Linked DNA regions of Homo sapiens: all the other regions are linked to region 3. The links come from fine-mapping of genetic effects on gene expression. A gene starts in region 3. Each other region holds a variant in brackets. All regions are shown on one strand. Distances are from middle to middle.

The links. PIP is the estimated chance that this variant, and not a neighbour inherited with it, causes the effect.
Region 1: its variant is fine-mapped to the expression of ZNF566 in whole blood (INTERVAL, PIP above 0.99).
Region 2: its variant is fine-mapped to the expression of ZNF566 in Th1/17 cells (Schmiedel 2018, PIP 0.95).

Annotation. Positions count from the first base shown.
Region 1 is chr19:36,446,191-36,452,296 of GRCh38, reverse strand. ZNF566 (zinc finger protein 566) reads left to right here. Exons shown (of 5, transcript NM_001145344.1): 5 at 2,296-6,106. The coding sequence ends at 3,320. Among named protein-coding and RNA genes, the nearest start is that of ZFP82, 31 kb to the right of the region's middle. RefSeq lists an enhancer at 2,047-3,246. The variant C/A (reference allele first, on the strand shown) is at 2,439.
Region 2 is chr19:36,457,311-36,463,416 of GRCh38, reverse strand. All of the region lies in intron 4 of ZNF566 (zinc finger protein 566), which reads left to right. Among named protein-coding and RNA genes, the nearest start is that of ZNF566, 29 kb to the left of the region's middle. The variant AG/G (reference allele first, on the strand shown) is at 3,597.
Region 3 is chr19:36,486,177-36,492,282 of GRCh38, reverse strand. It overlaps ZNF566 (zinc finger protein 566), which reads left to right and starts at 2,722. Exons shown (of 5, transcript NM_001145344.1): 1 at 2,722-2,797. ZNF566-AS1 (ZNF566 antisense RNA 1) reads right to left here and starts at 2,656. Exons shown (of 1, transcript NR_036504.1): 1 at 1,243-2,656. RefSeq lists enhancers at 1,853-2,738, 2,233-2,792, 3,353-3,432, 2,739-3,626.

The DNA.
Region 1 (6,106 bases), 40 kb after region 3:
CGTAGTCATTTCTTTCTCTATGGGTAACTGATAAGAATACTAGATGAGATCCTGTCCCTCTGTAACCAGACCAAATTATTTCTTGTAAAAATTTATTTGTATTACATGTATATTATAATAGTTTACAAAGCTGTACCTTCCTTACCCCTCCATTTCCTTGTCTAAGAGTCAGTGACTTTCAAGTCTTCTAACTATTCTCCCTTTTTTTTTTTTAACGAGTCAAGGGGTCGGGCCTAATGTCCCCATTTTTGTATGGAAATTCTTTTTTTTGTTGTTTGTTTGTTTTTTTTGAGATGGAGTCTCGCTCTGTTCCCTAGGCTGGAGTGCAGTGGTGTGATCTTGGCTCACTGCAATCTCCACCTCCTGGGTTCAAGCAATTCTTCTGCCTCAGCCTCCTGAGTAGCTGGGATTACAGTGCATGTGCTACCACACCCGGCTAATTTTTGTATTTTTAGTAGAGATAGGGTTTCACCATGTTGGTCAGGCTGGTCTCAAACTCCTGACCTCGTGATCGGCCCGCCTCGGCCCCGCAGAGTGCTGGGATTACAGGCGTGAGCCACTGTGCCTGGCAGAAATTCTTCCATAGTATTTACAAACATTAATCCCAATCCTCACAACAGTTGTAAGGGCTATCATTCCTATTGTATTAGACAGAGAACTGCAGGTTTGGAAGGTTGAACTAATTTGCCCAAGAAAACAAAGCTTATAATTATTCAAGTTTGAGTATAAAACGCATGTAACTGAATCTAGTATCTCTGATCTGTCAGTACCATACACTGCCTTCCATTTTACTCTCTCCCCTTCTCTTGAACCTACAAATGTCTTTTCTGCCAGTCAGTCATTACTACTATAGTGATCATGTACTTGTTAAGTCCCCTCTTCTCTTTAACAAAGGTCAGCATCTCAGAATTACACGACAAACACTATTTTCATCAAACCCCAAACATATACCATATCTGTCCACAAATGAGTCCTATCTACCACTCATACTATGTTCATTCCACACTTGACTTTTCTTAAGCTAGGCTTTTTTCTGGATTGTCACCCTCTAGTTCCTTATCATTTTTTAAAGTGCTCTGGCCCTCCTGTTACAGAATCCAGACCAGGGCTATCCAAGAGAACATTCAGTGGTGATGGAAATGTTTTATATTTGTGATATTTCGTACAGACTTCCAGTACAAAAGCTACCAGCCACATTTGGCTGTTGAACATTGGAAATGTGAATAATGTGACTGAGAAACTGAATTTTCAAATTCAGCTGTTTATTTCAAAATGAAATGCACATTTTACTTAAATTATTTGAAATTTTAAAAGCCACATGTAGCTAGCGGCTACTGTATTAGACGATGCATATCTAACCAGGGGCTGGCAAACTTTTTCTTGAAAGGCAAATAGTAAGTATTTTAGGTTTGCAGTTCACACATTCTCTATCATAACTACTCACTTCTGCCCTTTTAGCGCAAAAGCATCCATAGACAATACGTAACAAGTATGGCTAATAAAACTTCATTTATAAAAATGGGTGCAGGGCCATAGGCCATAGTTTACTGATCTCTGGGAATTTTCCATTAGGCATATTCATTTCATCCGACAATAGCCCTGTTAACAGTGTGATCATTCCTTTATTTATTTATTTATTTATTTATCTATCTATTGAGACAGTGACTCACTCTGTTGCCCAGGCTGGAGTGCAGTGGCAATCTCGGCTCACTGCAACCTCTGCCTCCCGGGTTCAAGCAATTCTCGTGCCTCGGCCTCCCCAGTAGCTGGGATTACAGGCACACACCACCATGCCCCACTAGATTTTTATATTTTTAGTAGAGACAGGTTTCACCATGTTAGCCAGGCTGATCTCAAACTCCTGACCAAGTGATCTGCCTGCCTCACCCGCCCAAGGTGCTGGGATTACAGATGTGAGCCACCATGCCTGGCCATTTCCCTTATTTTATAATTCATACTATGAGATGCTATTATATGTCTGTGTGTATATATGCAATGAGATATTTTGTGTGTGTATGATTAGAGTCATCCTTTAACAAGGGAGATAGGACTAAAGCATGTGTATATTTAGCAGGCTTCCCAAAGTAATTCTGATCTATAGCAATGTTTGGGAACCAGTGACTTACTTTGTTTTCCTAATCACTACCCTCATCTTATTATGTAACCTGTCTTCTAACTCTCTTTTTTCCTCATCCATTTGTAAAAAAAATTCGGTTAAATTCTCCCATATTGATTGAAGTTTTGTTTCTCCCAAACAAGAAAAATGTGAGTGATTACTTTCATATTTTCTTTCAGTCCTGGAATCAAGATGTGAGACCAAGAAATTATTTCTGAAGAAAGAAATTTATGAAATAGAATCAACCCAGTGGGAAATAATGGAAAAACTCACAAGACGTGATTTTCAGTGCTCCAGTTTCAGAGATGATTGGGAATGTAAT[C/A]GGCAGTTTAAGAAAGAACTCGGCTCTCAGGGGGGACATTTCAATCAATTGGTATTCACTCATGAAGATCTGCCCACTTTGAGTCACCATCCATCCTTCACATTACAGCAAATCATTAACAGTAAAAAGAAATTCTGTGCATCTAAAGAATATAGGAAAACCTTTAGACATGGCTCACAGTTTGCTACACATGAGATAATTCATACCATTGAGAAGCCTTATGAATGTAAGGAATGTGGAAAGTCCTTTAGACATCCCTCAAGACTCACTCATCATCAGAAAATTCATACTGGCAAGAAACCCTTTGAATGTAAGGAATGTGGAAAAACCTTTATTTGTGGCTCAGACCTTACTCGACATCACAGAATTCACACTGGTGAGAAACCCTATGAATGTAAGGAATGTGGGAAAGCCTTTAGTAGTGGTTCAAACTTCACTCGACATCAGAGAATTCACACAGGTGAGAAGCCTTATGAATGCAAAGAATGCGGGAAGGCCTTTAGTAGTGGCTCAAACTTTACTCAACATCAGAGAATTCATACTGGGGAAAAACCCTATGAATGTAAGGAATGTGGCAATGCCTTTAGTCAGAGCTCACAACTTATTAAACATCAAAGAATCCATACAGGTGAGAAACCTTACGAATGTAAGGAATGTGAAAAGGCTTTTCGTTCTGGCTCAGACCTTACTAGACATCAGAGAATTCATACTGGGGAGAAACCCTATGAATGTAAGATATGTGGGAAGGCTTATTCTCAGAGTTCACAGCTTATTAGTCATCATAGAATTCATACTAGTGAGAAACCCTATGAATATAGGGAATGTGGAAAGAACTTTAATTATGACCCACAACTTATTCAGCATCAAAATTTGTACTGGTGATGAAACAGAATATATGAAATGTGTAGGGAGGCTTTTAATTATGGCTCAAAACAGAATTTATCTTGTTAATAATTCCTCTAGATAGAATAATGTAGAAACATTTTATTTGTGGACTACAGCTTATTCAGCCTGGGAAAAATAATGTTGGAGAAATACTCTATGAATAGAATATACTTTGGAAGCCCTTAACTAAACGCTTACTTCTCTTGACATCAGATAATTCAGTCTAGCAATATGATAGATAATTCAGTCTGTCATACTGAAAATGACAGCACTTTTAACACCTTTCTAACCTTCTTAACGTCAGAGAATTTTTGTAGAAATGTAGTCCTGTGATTGTCATTTTTTCCCCTAATTTCTCTAATTGTTACATTCTTAGTATTTTAATCCATATTAAATTTATATGGCTATAAATTTCATCTGTTTACATCCTGATTTGTATACTATTTTAAAAATACCTTTAGTACCTGGGAGAAGTGACCTCTTTATTTTTGAAGATGGCTTATTCTTTTTGTTCTTTATAACATTAAGGCTTTCTTATTGTAAAAATGTTCATGAACGACATTTTACTCAATAGAGATTCTTCATTATCTTCATGGTGTTTTGTTGTGTTACTGTAATATCACTTATGAAATCCTATTGGTGGATATCGTAGTCTCCTCTAGATATTTTGCCATAATACATGCCAAAATACAAGTCCCTGCTGGACATTCTCCCTAAGCACATCTTTGTATCATATCTTTTAATTGCAGAAGTAATGTGTGAATATATTTTCCTTATAAAAGATGCAAACATTACAAAAAGGCAAATGTACCCTTTGACCATATCCCAAAGGATAGTCTTTATCAGTTCATTATTTATTGCTGATCATTTTTCTGTTCATATATACATGCGTGTCTCAGTAAAAATTATAAAATGGGGGATAATTATAATACCTACCTCATAATGCTTTGTGAGGATTAAATGAATTAAGATCGATAAAGTGCTTAGAATTGTGCCTGACATGATAAATACATACTCACTGAATGTTAGTCATCGTTATTATATTCATCATCATCAGTATTATTATTTGTAGAAAGGCTTTTTAACTTCTGCAGAACTTAGTCACCATTAGGCAGGGTGTTTGACTGAAGAAAGACCCTTTGAAGGTAACAAGTTAAGAAAATTTCCCATCATCATGTACTTACTATTGAACATGAAATAATCCTAGGTGTTGGGGGGGAAAGTACTGTGAATAATGTGTGTGAAGGACTTTATTCCGACTAATACTCTTTTTGTCGCATTATATACCCAGTAAAAAAGAAAAGAGAACATAAGCAAAATATTGGTGCACTAATGAGGAAAAAAAGTATGAAAAGAGAAACAGCATCATATTTAAAAAATGGACAGAGATAGAAACATAGTTACAGATTTAAAAGGTTCTGTTGAATATTATGCTTTTTTCTAATATGTTTGAAAATTTAAACAAAATGGTTTTTAAGGAAAATATACATCAATATTGACTCCAAGAAAATTAGGACTCTTCAAAGACTCTCATAAACACAGAGAACAGGGAAAAATTAGCATGTGATCAGTTAACTATTACTAATGAAGCACCAAATCCAGTTTCTTTCTAAGGAAAACTTTATCAAATGTTCAAGGAACTATTTCAGTTATATAGAAGTACACATCTTGGCTCACGCCTGTAATCCCAGCACTTTGGGAGGCTGAGATGGAAGGATCATTTGAGGCCAGGAGCTTGAGACCAGCCTGGCCAACATGTTGAAACCCCATTTTTACTCAAAAATACAAAACTTAGCCAGGCATGGTGGCACATGCCTGTAATCCCAGCTACTGGGGAGGCTGAGGCAGGAGAATCACTTGAATGCAGGAGGTGGAGGTTGCAGTGAGCCAAGATCACGCCATGGCACTTCAGCCTGAGCGACAGAATGAGACTATTAAAAAAAAAAAAAAAAAGTCCACAGTGTAGCTTTGTTTGGGGTTAAGTTAGTGTTTTGAAATGGGCCTTCCCTGTGCTCAAAACATGCTCAGCAAGCAGCTCCCCACGCTGGACAGATCGCATATGTGGAAGGATGAAGTTTATGTCTGTAGAACTGTTATTTTATGCCCCACTTCCTTTTTTCTTAGATCCTGTGTAGACGGGTCTCTCTGAACATTGTGTTACTTTACTTTACTGGCATAAGGAAGTAAAATATTTCATAATAAATTTGAGAAAAGTAGAGTGAGCAAAAATACCTGCAAATGAGAGAATTACTAAAAATGGACTGTTGTAATGTTTTGCGTTATCAAAATGAAAACTGCCAAATGAGATTTTGTTTACTTTCTTTTCTTGTGTGCTTATGTCTTTTATAAAGTTCTTCATCTAAAATTATAGAGATAGTGCATTTGCACCCAAATTAATGAAACAATACCATTAAAGAGAAAGAAAAGGGGCTGGGCACAGTGGCTTACGCCTGTAATCCCAGTGCTTTGGGAGGCCAAGGCAGGGGGCAGCCTGGCCAATATAGTGAAACCCCATCTCTACTAAAAATACAAAAATTAGCTGGGCGTGGTGGCATGTGCCTGTAGTCCCAGCTGCTCGGAAGGCTGAGGCAGGAGAATCGCTTGAACCCGGGAGGCGGAGGTTGCAGTGAGCTGAGATCCTGACTGCACTCCAGCCTGCATGACAGAGTCTCAAAAAATCTGTCTCAAAAAAAAAAAAAAAAAAGAAAGAAAAAATGATTATCTTTGCCCTTCTCCGTTCCTCATTCCCTCCCCTCTGTCAATTTTCTTCTGAATAATATTTA
Region 2 (6,106 bases), 29 kb after region 3:
GTGTATTTTTATAAACTTATCTCAAAAAAGGGCTTATAGTTCATTTGATATTTTATTTCTAGGTATTTTCTATATATTTTTGGGGGTCTACAAATGCAGTTGAGTTGTTTATTGCGTAGGATGTAGACAGAGATAATTCCAGCTGGAGTGTAGTGGTGAACCCACAGCTCACTGCAGTCTGGACCTCCTGGGCTCAAGCAATCCTCCTACCTCAGCCCCCGAGTAGCTGAAACCGCAGACATGTGCCACCGTGCCCAGCTAATTTTTAAAATTTTGGTAGAAACCAGGTCTCCCTGTGTTATCTAGGCTGATTTTGAACTCCTGGGCTCAAGCAGTCCTCCCATCTTGGCCTCCCAAAGTGCTGGGATTACTGCGTCTGGCCCAAGATAAGCCTTCCAGTTTTGGCAGAAGGCACAGGAAATGGGATTTTTTTTTTTTTTTTTTTTTTTTTTTTTTTTTTGAGACAGAGTCTCGCTGTGTCACCCAGGCTGGAGTGCAGTGGCACAGTCTCGGCTCACTGCAACCTCCGCCTCCTGGGTTCAAGCGATGCTCCTACCTCAGCCTCTCGAGTAGCTTGGATTACAGGCACCCCCCACCACGCCTGGCTAATTTTTTGTATTTTTAGTAGAGGCGGGGTTTCACCGCGTTAGCCAGGATGGGAGGAAATGGGATTCTTAACACCAAGAGAGATTGGGGCAATCTCTTGCTTGTGTGTATATGCACATACATATGTACATATATACATATATGTATATATACACAAATATATGTCTATATTTTCCCCCCTGTTTTTGCATGTCCCAGCCTCCAGACAATCTCACAGCAGCAGCAGCAATAGTGGAAGCAGTGGGGGCCTGCAGGTATCTAAAACTACAAGGAATAGGAACCTTCTTTTCCTGTTAGAGTTGCCGTGGAGTGAACCCCTATTACTTTTTTTCTCTGTTTCCTCCTGCCATACCCAGGCATAGTTGCAGAAAATACATAGCAGAGGGAGGTAACTAAAGCCCCAGCGTTAGGACTAGAGAACTGAATAGGGGAGCTCCAGGGAACTAGAAAGTATTAAGAAGATCCCAGAAAGGAACAAGTTCAAAAAAGCAACCTATGTTCAAGTTCAAAAAACCCAAAGTTGGCCCCGGCATGGTGGCTCATGTCTGTAATCCCAGCACTTTGGGAGGCCGAGGTGGGTGGATCACCTGAAGTCGGGAGTTCAAGACCAGCCTGACCAACATGGAGAAACCCCATCTCTACTAAAAATACAAAATTAGCCAAGCGTGGTGGTGCATGCCTCTAATCCCAGCTACTCGGGAGGCTGAGGCAGGAGAATTGCTTGAACCCGGGAGGCAGAGGTTGGGGTGAGCCGAGATCATGCCATTGCACTCCAACCTGGGCAACAAGAGTAAACTCCATCTCCAAAAAAAAAAAAAAACCCAAAGTTCAAAAAACTCAGTTTTTATGAACTCTTAGGCTCATTTTTGCCCGAATATATGTGGATCTGTCCCTAAATAACATATCAAAGACTTTAAGAACTAAAGTGTAAGTTCAGATTGGATTGGGTGGTGTACACACAGGACAAATCCAAATAACACTGCAAAGGCCTTGAAAACTGACACTGGAATCACAGTCCACACAAGCCTTGTTGGAACTTGCAGCCTGTACCCAACATGGTCAATACCTGTTAAAACAAAATATGAACCATCTCCATAGGATTTATTTTATTTTTTTATTTTATTTTATTTTATTTTTTCTGAGACAGAGTCTCGCTCTGTCGCCCAGGCTGGAGTGCAGTGGCGTGATCTTGGCTCACTGCAACCTCTGCCTCCTGGGTTCAGGGGATTCTCCTGCCTCAGCCTCCCTGAGTAGCTGGGACTACAGGTGCACGCCACTAAGCCTAACTAATTTTTTTTGTATTTTTAGTAGAGATGAGGTTTTACCGTGTTGGCCAGGTCTCAAACTCTTGACCTCAGGTGATCCACCTGCCTCGGACTCCCAAAGTGCTGGGATCACAGGCGTAAGCCACTGCGTCCAGCCAAGAGTTTTAATTAGATGTATCTTGGTATAATTTCTGAAGTTCAAAGAAACAGAAAACTCCATTGAAGTAACAACCTAGTAACTCAGGGTGTATCCTACACATGTTTGTGTTTGGTGCTGCCCCTACAGTTCTCTAATGTTCTGAATTAGTTACCAGCCTCAAGCTATCAGGGGATTTAATATAGAAATCTGGATTTCTAGTTTTCCTTGGAGAGCTGGAAAGCAGCACTGGACCTTCATTCTCACATGACAGCTGTCTCCTGGATTTAACAAGCACTTAACCCCTTTGAGAAGGGGTACAAGCTCTTTTACTAACCACTGTCCCCACTATTGCCTACTCTCACACAGACTCTGAGGGCACAGCCTGAGCTGCAATGTACATTTGCAGTATTACTTTTCTTAATCTCACCTTCATTACTGAAGGATATTTTTGGTAGATACAAAATTCTGGATTCACAACTCTTTTTTTCAGCACAATAAATTATTGTTCCAATTTTTTTCTGGCCTCCAGAGTTTATGAAGAGCAATCCAGTCATTCAAATCATTGTTCACCCAGAAGTAATATATATTTTTTTACAGTTCTTTCACTATTTATTTTGTCTTTGATTTTCAGCAGTTTGATTATGATGTGTCTGAGTATGGATTTCTTTGGGTTTATCCTATTTGGGGTGGCTGAGCTTCTCAAAATGGCTTTGCTTGTTTTATCTTTCACAAAATTTGTAAGTTTTCAGCCATTATTTCTTCAAATCTTTTTTGAGTCCTATACTATCTCTTCTCCTTCTGAAACCCTGATGACACAAATGTTAAATCTTTTCTTGTTCTACATTCCCAGAGGCTATGTTCTTTTTGCATTTTCCATCTTTTTTTCGCTGCTATTCATATTAGCTAATTTCTTTTGAACTATCTTCAAGTTTATTGACTTTATTACCTCCATTCTGCTGTTGAGCCTAGCCAGTGGTTTTTATTTCGGCTACTGCACTTTTCAGTTCTAAAACTTGTTTATTCTTCTTTATATATTCTATTCTTTTGCTGAAACTTTCTATTTTTATATTGGTTTGCAGAGTGTGCATGATTCCTTATTCAAGCATTTTTAAAATAGCTGCTTTAAAGTCATTATCTGATAATTCCAACATGAGTCACCTTTATTTTGGTGTCTGTTGTCTTTTGCCATGTAAGTTAAAATTTTCTTCATTCTTCATATGTTGAGTGATTTTGGATGGTATCCTAAGGCATTCTGAATATTATTCTATGAGACCCTAGGTCTTTCTTTAAATCCTATGAAAGCCAGGCACAGTGGCTTATGCCTGTAATCCCAGCACTTTGGGAGGTCAAGGTGGGCAGATCACTTGAGGTCAGGAGTTCGAGATCAGCCTGGCCAACGTGTTGAAACCTCGTCTTTACTAAAAATACAAAAAAAATAGCTGCGTATGATCTCAGCTACTTGGGAGGCTGAGAGGCAGGAGGATCTCTTGAACCCAGGAGGTGGAAGTTGCAGTGAGCTGAGATCACGCCACTGTACTCTCACCTGGGCAACAGAGCAAGGTTCTGTCTCAAAAAAAAAAAAAAAA[AG/G]TAATAGGTGGCCAGGCGCGGTGGCTCACGACTGTAATCCCAGCACTTTGGGAGGCCGAGGCGGGTGGATCACCTGAGGTTGGGGTTCGAGACCAGCCTGGCCAACATGGTGAAACCCCGTCTTTACTAAAAATACAAAAAATTAGCCGGGCGTGGTGGCGCATGCCTGTAATCCCAGCTACTCAGGAGGCTGAGGCAGGAGAATCGCTTGAACCTGGAAGGCAGAGGTTGTGGTGAGCCGAGATCAAGCCATTGCACTCCAGTCTGGGCAACAAGAGCAAAACTGTCTCAAAAAAAAAAAGTAATAGGCTGGGAGCGGTGGCTCACGCCTGTAATCCCAGCACTTTGGGAGGCCCAGGTGGGTGGATCACACGGTCAGGAGTTCAAGACCAGCCTGGCCAAGGTGATGAAACCCCATCTCTACTAAAAATACAAAAATTAGCCAGGCATGGTGTCTCATGCCTGTAATCCCAGTTACTTGGGAGGCTGAGGCAAACACAAAACAAAACAAAAACCTCTTTCCTCATATATATTGCTCAGCAAAAAGGGAACCATCTGAATACTAAGAGTTTTCATCAACCCTGGAAATTTGTTTTATTAGGGTTCTATATCATTGCCATATTTTCCTTCCAGAATTCATATTTGACATTCATTTTATTTCTTACATCAATTTTTCTTCCCTATGACTTATTATTTTCTGTCATCACTTTCATCCTTCTCTGAAAGTTTTTTAAACAATTCATTCCAGCTTTTTCCCTAGCTTTATTGAGGTATATTTGGCAAATAAAAATTATATATATTGGCCAGGCGTGGTGGTGCATGCCTGTAATCCCAGCTACCTGGGAGGCTGAGGCAAGAGAAGCACTTAAACCTAAGAGGCAGAGGTTGCAGTGAGCCAAGATCGCGCCATTGCACTCCAGCCTGGGCGACAAGAGTGAAAACTTTGTCTCAAAAAGAAAAATTATATGTATTTACAGTATACAGTTAGGTATTTTGATATATGTGTATACATTGTGAAATGATTACCATAATCAAGCCAATTAATGTATCTATCACATCACATAGTTACCAATTTGTATATGTGTGTATGTGGTAAGAACATTAAGATCTACTCCCATAATAAATTCCAAGTATACAATACAGTATTATAAACTATAGTTACTATGGTATACGTTCTGTACTGGTATTACCATTAATGGTATGTACTTACATGGCAGTACATACTATTAATATATAATGCTGTATATTAGATCTCCAGAAATTTTTTATTCTGAGTAACTAGAACTTTGTACCCTTTGACCAATATCTTCTTTCCTCCGTCCCCCAACCCCTGGTGACCTCCATTCTACTCTCTTCTTCTATGAGTTCAACGTTTTAGAGTTCATATATAAGTGAGATCACTGCAGTATCTGTCTTTCTGTGCCTGGCTTATTTCACATATGTCCTCCAGCTTCATCTATGTTGTTGAAAATAACAGGATTTTCTTCATTTTTAAGTCTTAATATTCCAGTGTTTGTGTATTTGTATATATACACACACATTCCATTATGTGTGTGTATATGTGTATGTGTGTGTGTATACATATATATGCCCACACATCACATTTTCTTTATCAATTTATCCATTGATTCCATATCTTGGCTATCATGAATGATGCTGCAATGAACATAAGAATGCAGATTTTTTTTCCCCCATACTGATTTGATTTCATTTGGATATATACCCAGAAGTAAGCTTGCTGAGTTATAGGGTAGTTTTGAGAAACCTCCATGCTGTTTTCCATAATGGCTGTTTCAATTTATGCCACCAACAGTGTCCAAGGATTCCCTTTTTGCCACATCCTTTCCAACACTTGTTATTTTTTGTCCTTTTGATAATAGCAGTTCTGACAGGTGTGAGGGGATTTTTGTTTGTTTGTTTATTTTTTTGAGACGGAGTCTCACTCTTGTTGCCCAGGCTGGAGTGCAGTGGTGCAATCTCAGCTCACTGCAACCTCCGCCTCCGGGGTTCAAGCGATTCTCCCACTTCAGCCTCCCAAGTAGCTGAGATTACAAGTGCCCTCCACTAAGCCCACATAATTTTTGTATTTTAGTAGAGATGGGATTTCATCATGTTGGTCAGGCTGGTGTCGAACTCCTGACCTCAAGTGATCCACCCACCTCGGCCTCCCAAAGTGCTGGGATTACAGGCCTGAGCCACAGTAACCAGCAATGAGGTGATATTTCATTGTGGTTTCAATTTCCATTTTCCTGATGATTAGTAATGTTGAGTGTTTTTTCATATACCTATTGGCTGTTTCTATGTCTTCTTTTGAGAAATGCCCATTTTTTAATTGGGTTATTTGTTTTCTTGTTACTGAGTTGAGTTCCTTATACATTTTGGATATTAGCATCTTACCAGATACAAGGTTTGAAAATATTTTATCCCACTCTGTGGATAGTCTCTTCACTCTGTTGTTTCCTTTGCTGTGCAGAAGCTTTTGAGTTTGATGTAATCATATTTTTCTATT
Region 3 (6,106 bases):
TTTTTAGTATAGACGGGGTTTACACCATGTTGCCCAGGCTGGTCTCAAACCCCTCAGCCTCCCAAAGTGCTGGGATTTCAGGCGTGAACCACCGCACCCGGCCAGAATATATCCTTATTATTTATTTATTTATTTTTTTTTAATTGATCATTCTTGGGTGTTTCTTGCAGAGGGGGATTTGGCAGGGTCATAGGACGATAGTGGAGGGAATGTCAGCAGATAAACAAGTGAACAAAGGTCTCTGGTTTTCCTAGGCAGAGGACCCTGCGGCCTTCGGCAGTGTTTGTGTCCCTGGGTACTTAAGATTAGGGAGTGGTGATGACTCTTAACGAGCATGCTGCCTTCAAGCATCTGTTTAACAAAGCACATCTTGCACCGCCCTTAATCCATTTAACCCTGAGTGGACACAGCACATGTTTCAGAGAGCACAGGGTTGGGGGTAAGGTCACAGATCAACAGGATCCCAAGGCAGAAGAATTTTTCTTAGTACAGAACAAAATGAAAAGACTCCCATATCTACGTCTTTCTACACAGACACGGCAACCATCCGATTTCTCAATCTTTTCCCCACCTTTCCCGCCTTTCTATTCCACAACACCGCCATTGTCATCATGGCCCGTTCTCAATGAGCTGTTGGGTACACCTCCCAGATGGGGTCGTGGCCAGGCAGAGGGGCTCCTCACTTCCCAGTAGGGGCGGCCGGGCAGAGGCGCCCCTCACCTCCCGGACGGAGAGGCTGGCCGGGCGGGGGGCTGACCCCCCCCCACCTCCCTCCCGGACGGGGCGGCTGGCCGGGCAGAGGGGCTCCTCAATTCCCAGTAGGGGTGGCCAGGCAGAGGCGCCCCTCGCCTCCCGGACGGGGCGGCTGGCCGGGCGGGGGACTGACCCCCCCACCTCCCTCCCGAACGGGGCGGCTGGCCGGGCGGGGGGCTGACCCCCCCACCTCCCTCCCGGACGGGGCGGCTGGCCTGGCGGGGGTGACCCCCACCTCCCTCCCGGATGGGGTGGCTGCCGGGCGGAGACGCTCCTCACTTCCCAGACGGGGTGGCTGCCGGACGGAGGGGCTCCTCACTTCTCAGACGGGGCGGCTGCCGGGCGGAGGGGCTCCTCACTTCTCAGACGGGGCGGTTGCCAGGCAGAGGGTCTCACTTCTCAGACGGGGCGGCCGGGCAGAGACGCTCCTCACCTCCCAGACGGGGTCGCGGCCAGGCAGAGGCGTTCCTCACATCCCAGACGGGGCGGCGGGGCAGAGGCGCTCCCCACATCCCAGACGATGGGCGGCCTGGCAGAGACGCTCCTCACTTTCCAGACTGGGCAGCCAGGCAGAGGGGCTCCTCACATCCCAGACGATGGGCGGCCAGGCAGAGAAGCTCCTCACTTCCCAGATGGGGTGGCGGCGGGGCAGAGGCTGCAATCTCGGCTCTTTGGGGGGCCAAAGCAGGCGGCTGGGAGGAGGTTGTAGCGAGCCGAGATCACGCCACTGCACTCCAGCCTGGGCACCATTGAGCACTGAGTGAACAAGACTCCGTCTGCAATCCCGGCACCTCGGGAGGCCGAGGCTGGCGGACCACTCGCGGTTAGGAGCTGGAGACCAGCCCGGCCAACACAGCGAAACCCTGTGTTTGGTGGAGACCAAAAAAATACGAAAACCAGTCAGGCGTGGCGGCGCGCGCCTGCAATCGCAGGCACTCGGCAGGCTGAGGCAGGAGAATCAGGCAGGGAGGTTGCAGTGAGCCGAGAGGGCAGCAGTACAGTCCAGCTTTGGCTCGGCATCAGAGGGAGACCGTGGAAAGAGAGGGAGAGGGAGACCGTGGGGAGAGCATATATCCTTATTATTAAACTATGCATGACTGTGTATACAATACCTTTATAGGTCAAAAGCAGTCAAATACTGGCCATGAGATACACTTAGTCCAAGTACACAAATAATTGCAGAAGGAGAAAGTGAAACTCCTCTTACTTCCTGCCCCACTCATTTATCACAAAGCACACAGAAGTCAGAATAACACCTGCCCTTTGCAATTTCAGACTCCTCTCTTTCTGCCTCTCCAAACCTGTCCCACGTTTGGCGATTCCTTTCCCTTCGACCTCCCCCCATCAGGTCGCAGGTTCCTGGTCTACACCCCTTCTGCGTCCCCAACCACTTCTGAGTCTCACAACCTCTGGTCCCATAACCCCTCTGCACTAAGGAGCAATAAACAAAATTCACGCCCGAACAAAGAGGCCAAAACAGCAACCCAGGATGTTTGCGCCTGCGCACTCTGGGCGCACAGTACTCAGGCCGGCAGCCCAGCACCGGCTTATCTGTGAGAGCAATTAAGATGACTTTCGGAGGGTCCAACCGCCTTCCCAGCTCCGAACTACATCTCCCAGAAGGCTCAGTTGTGCGATTATCTTTCCATGCAGACTTGTCCTCTTTCTGAGGCTGTCCAGCGCCTGGGGGCAGTAGGACGGGTCCGGGAACTAAGCCCATCTCAAACACGTCGGAGTGGCTTTCTTTGGGGGCCAAGGCCCGAGCCTGAGGCGGGACTCCATGAGGCCTCTGGGGCGCGAGCGGTTTGACTAGGGGGGGCGATCCTTTCGGCGGGGCTGACGCAAGGCGCGGACAGGAATTCTGACGATCGGGAACCATCTTGTCCGGCCTTGATACGTCTCTGACTACGCTTCCCAGAGGTCTCCTCGGCAAGACTGTACTTCTCGCGGTAATTCAGCTTCCAACTCACGCGCTGGCGGGACCCTCAGGGCTTTACCAGCAACTACCCCAGTGCCGGGGAGGGTTCTGCTGCTTCGAAAGCTGGTAAGGCCTGAGGTGAGAAACCCGGGAGAGGGCGGGGCCGGGGGCCAAGCCTCGGCTTTGTGCGGCGGTGGAGGTGAGATTGAAAGCGTGCGCTTGCGTCTGTGTGGAGGTGTGTGGTGAATGATCGCGCGATTGTGACAGGCTGCCCTTGTGATGAGTGTGTTTCCAACGCTCACACCGTGTGCAGCACGGCCTCGGAGACTGTGGCTGCTGGTGTGTGTGTGAGAGGGAGCAGGACCACGTGCGGCATTGTGTGTGCGGCTGTGGGGAGCTTGTGCCTGGTTGAGTGTTACTGCGTTTGTCCCCGTAGTGGTGTGCGACTATATGCTGTGTGACTGTGTGCGGCAGAGTTCAGGTGGGGATACCTGCGAGTAACTGCATGTTTCTATCTGTGTGTGTGGCTGTGGTTAATGTGTGATCGTGACTGTGACCCGGTACAGGTGTGCGCCGACTGTGACAATGTGGTTGTGACTGTGACTGCCTCCTCGGTAAGCGTGCACTTGTGCTTATGTGACCGATAGAGGCCCTGCGTGTGCGACCCTGTTGCTTTGGGCGTGGATTGTCTGTAGCTGAATGTCCCCATGGTGGGAGTGTGATCAGGTTTGTGTGGCAGGGTAAGTCACACAGTGTGAGGTTTTATCACTTACGTATACTTCTCTAGGCATTATACTCCAGTTTTTCCCCGTTTTAAAACTTTATATGAATGTTGTCATACTGTCTTTGGTTTATTTTTACAATTCTGTGAATCATCCCTATTAGATAAAATCGCGGTTAATTCAATTTCTTTGCTATATTCTCCCTTCTGAAGTATACCACAATTATTCATCCTTTCTAGTAATGATGCCCTATTAGTTATTTATAGCTTTTCATTTTATAAACAACACAGCCACATTCTTTCACATGGGGTACACATGCTTGAGTTTATTTACCAGCAGAATTGCCGGTTCATATATCTTCCACTTTACTAAACAGTGTCAAAATATATACCCGAGTGGCTGCACAAATTTGTACTTGAACAGCAATGTTTGAAATATCTTATTGCTCCATATCCCTACCAAAGCATAGTTCCAAGAGTTAAAAAAATTTTTGTAGGCCAAGTGTGGAGGCTCATGCGTGTAATCCCAGCACTTTGCCAGGCCAAGGTGAGAGGATCACTTGAGGCCAGGAGCTGGAGACCAGCCTGGGCAACATAGTGAGACCCTAACTCTACCATAAATACATACATACATAAAAAATTAGCCGGGCATGGTGGCTGGCACCTATAAGTCCTAGCTACTCAGGAGGTTGAGATGAGAGGATCGCTTGAGCCCAGTGCTTTGCAGCTGCAGGAAGCCATGATCATACCACTGCCCTTCAGCCTGGGCAACAGAGCAGGAGGCTGTCAATAGATACATAGAGCCTATATAAAGTGTGCAAATCTTAAGTGTACAGCTGTGTAACACTCTTAGATCTATACAAAGAACTTTGCCAGGACCTGAGATGCTTCCCTCATACCACTTCTCAGTAATTTCTCCCCCACACAATCTATTCAGAATTCTATCATTAACTAGTTTTACCCATTCTTTTTTTTTTTTTTTTTTTTTTTTTTGAGACAGAGTCTTGCTCTTGTCACCCAGGCTGGAGTGCAGTGATGCAATCTTGGCTCACTGCAACCTCCGCCTCCTGGGTTCAAACGATTCTCCTGCCTCAGCCTCCTGAGTAGCTGGGATTACAGGCACCCATCACACCCGGCTAATTTTTGTATTTTTAGTAGAGACAGGGTTTCCCCATGTTGGCAAAGCTAGTCCTGACCTCAGGTGATCCGCCCACCTTGGCCTCCCAAAGTGCTGGGATTACAGGCATGAGCCAGTGCATCTGGCTGTCTTACACATTCTTGAACTTCATGTATATATGCAATTATGCAGCATGTACTGTTTTATGCCAGGCTTCTTTTGTTATATATTATGTTTGTGAAATTCATTCATGTTGTTCAGTGTAATTGTACTTAGCTCTCACTATACTGGGGATATATTGTAGTATATTAGTCGATTACATTGTTGATGGATATTTGGGTAGCTTCCAATTTGGGGCTGTTACAAATGATGCTGCAGCTGTGAACACTCTGCTGTGTTTTTGGTGAACACATGAAGGCTTTTCTCCCGGGTTAATACTTAGGAGTGGCATTGCTAGATCATAGGGTAGGCTAATGTTTAATAGATACTACGAAGCTCTCATGTGGTTGTTCCAGTTTACACTCCATCCAGCAATGTATGAGAGTTCCAGTTGCTTCATATCCTCTCCGTAATTTGGTATGGTTAGTCTTTTAACTATTTTATTGGTTGTGTGGTGCAGTTTCATCATAGGTTTTTGTTTTGGTTTGTTTTGTCTTGTTTTGGTTTGTTTTTTTTTTTTTTTTTGAGACGGAGTCTCGCTCTGTGGCCCAGGCGGGAGTGCAGTGGCGCAATCTCGGCTCACTGCAAGCTCCGCCTCCCGGGTTCACGCCATTCTCCTGCCTCAGCCTCCCGAGTAGCTGGGATTACAGGTGCGTGCCACCACACCCAGCTAATTTTTGTATTTTTAGTGGAGACAGAGTTTCACCATGTGAAACTCCCGCCCGCCTCAGCCTCCCAAAATCCTGGGATTATAAGTGTGAGCCACTGCACCCAGCCTCATCATAGTTTTAATTTGTATTTCCTTGATGTGAAATGATGTTCAGCACCTTTTTGTATGTTTACTGGCCATTTGTATATCTTCTTTTTTGTGTCCATTTTCCCCTTCGTAAATTTTTTAAAAATGTTCTTTTCTTTCTTTCTTTCATTTTTTTTTTTTTTTTTTGAGACAGAGTTTCGCTCTTGCTGCCCAGGCTGGAGTGCAATGGCATGATCTCAGCTCACTGCAACCTCCACCTCCCAGGTTCAAGCAATCCTCCTGCCTCAGCCTCCCATGTAGCCAGGATTACAGGCTTGCGCCACCACGGCCAGCTAATTTTGTATTTTTAGTAGACACAGGGTTTCACAATATTGGTCAGGCTGGTCTCAAACTCCTGATCTCAGGTGATCCAACTGCCTTGTCCTCCCAAAGTGCTGGGATTACAGGTGTGAGCCACTATGCCTGGCCTAAAATTTTATTTTCATGTTGTGAACATAGTATAAGGAATTTGCAGATACTCTGCAGGTGCCCACAGTGCAATGATGAAAACCAGGAAATTTATGCTGATAGAAGACTTTTAATTAAGTTAGAGCCCTTTTTCAAATTTTGCTAAATTTTCTTACTGTTTCAGGATCCAATCCAAGGTCCTGCATTGAATTGTATTGTTTCATTAGTCTCCTT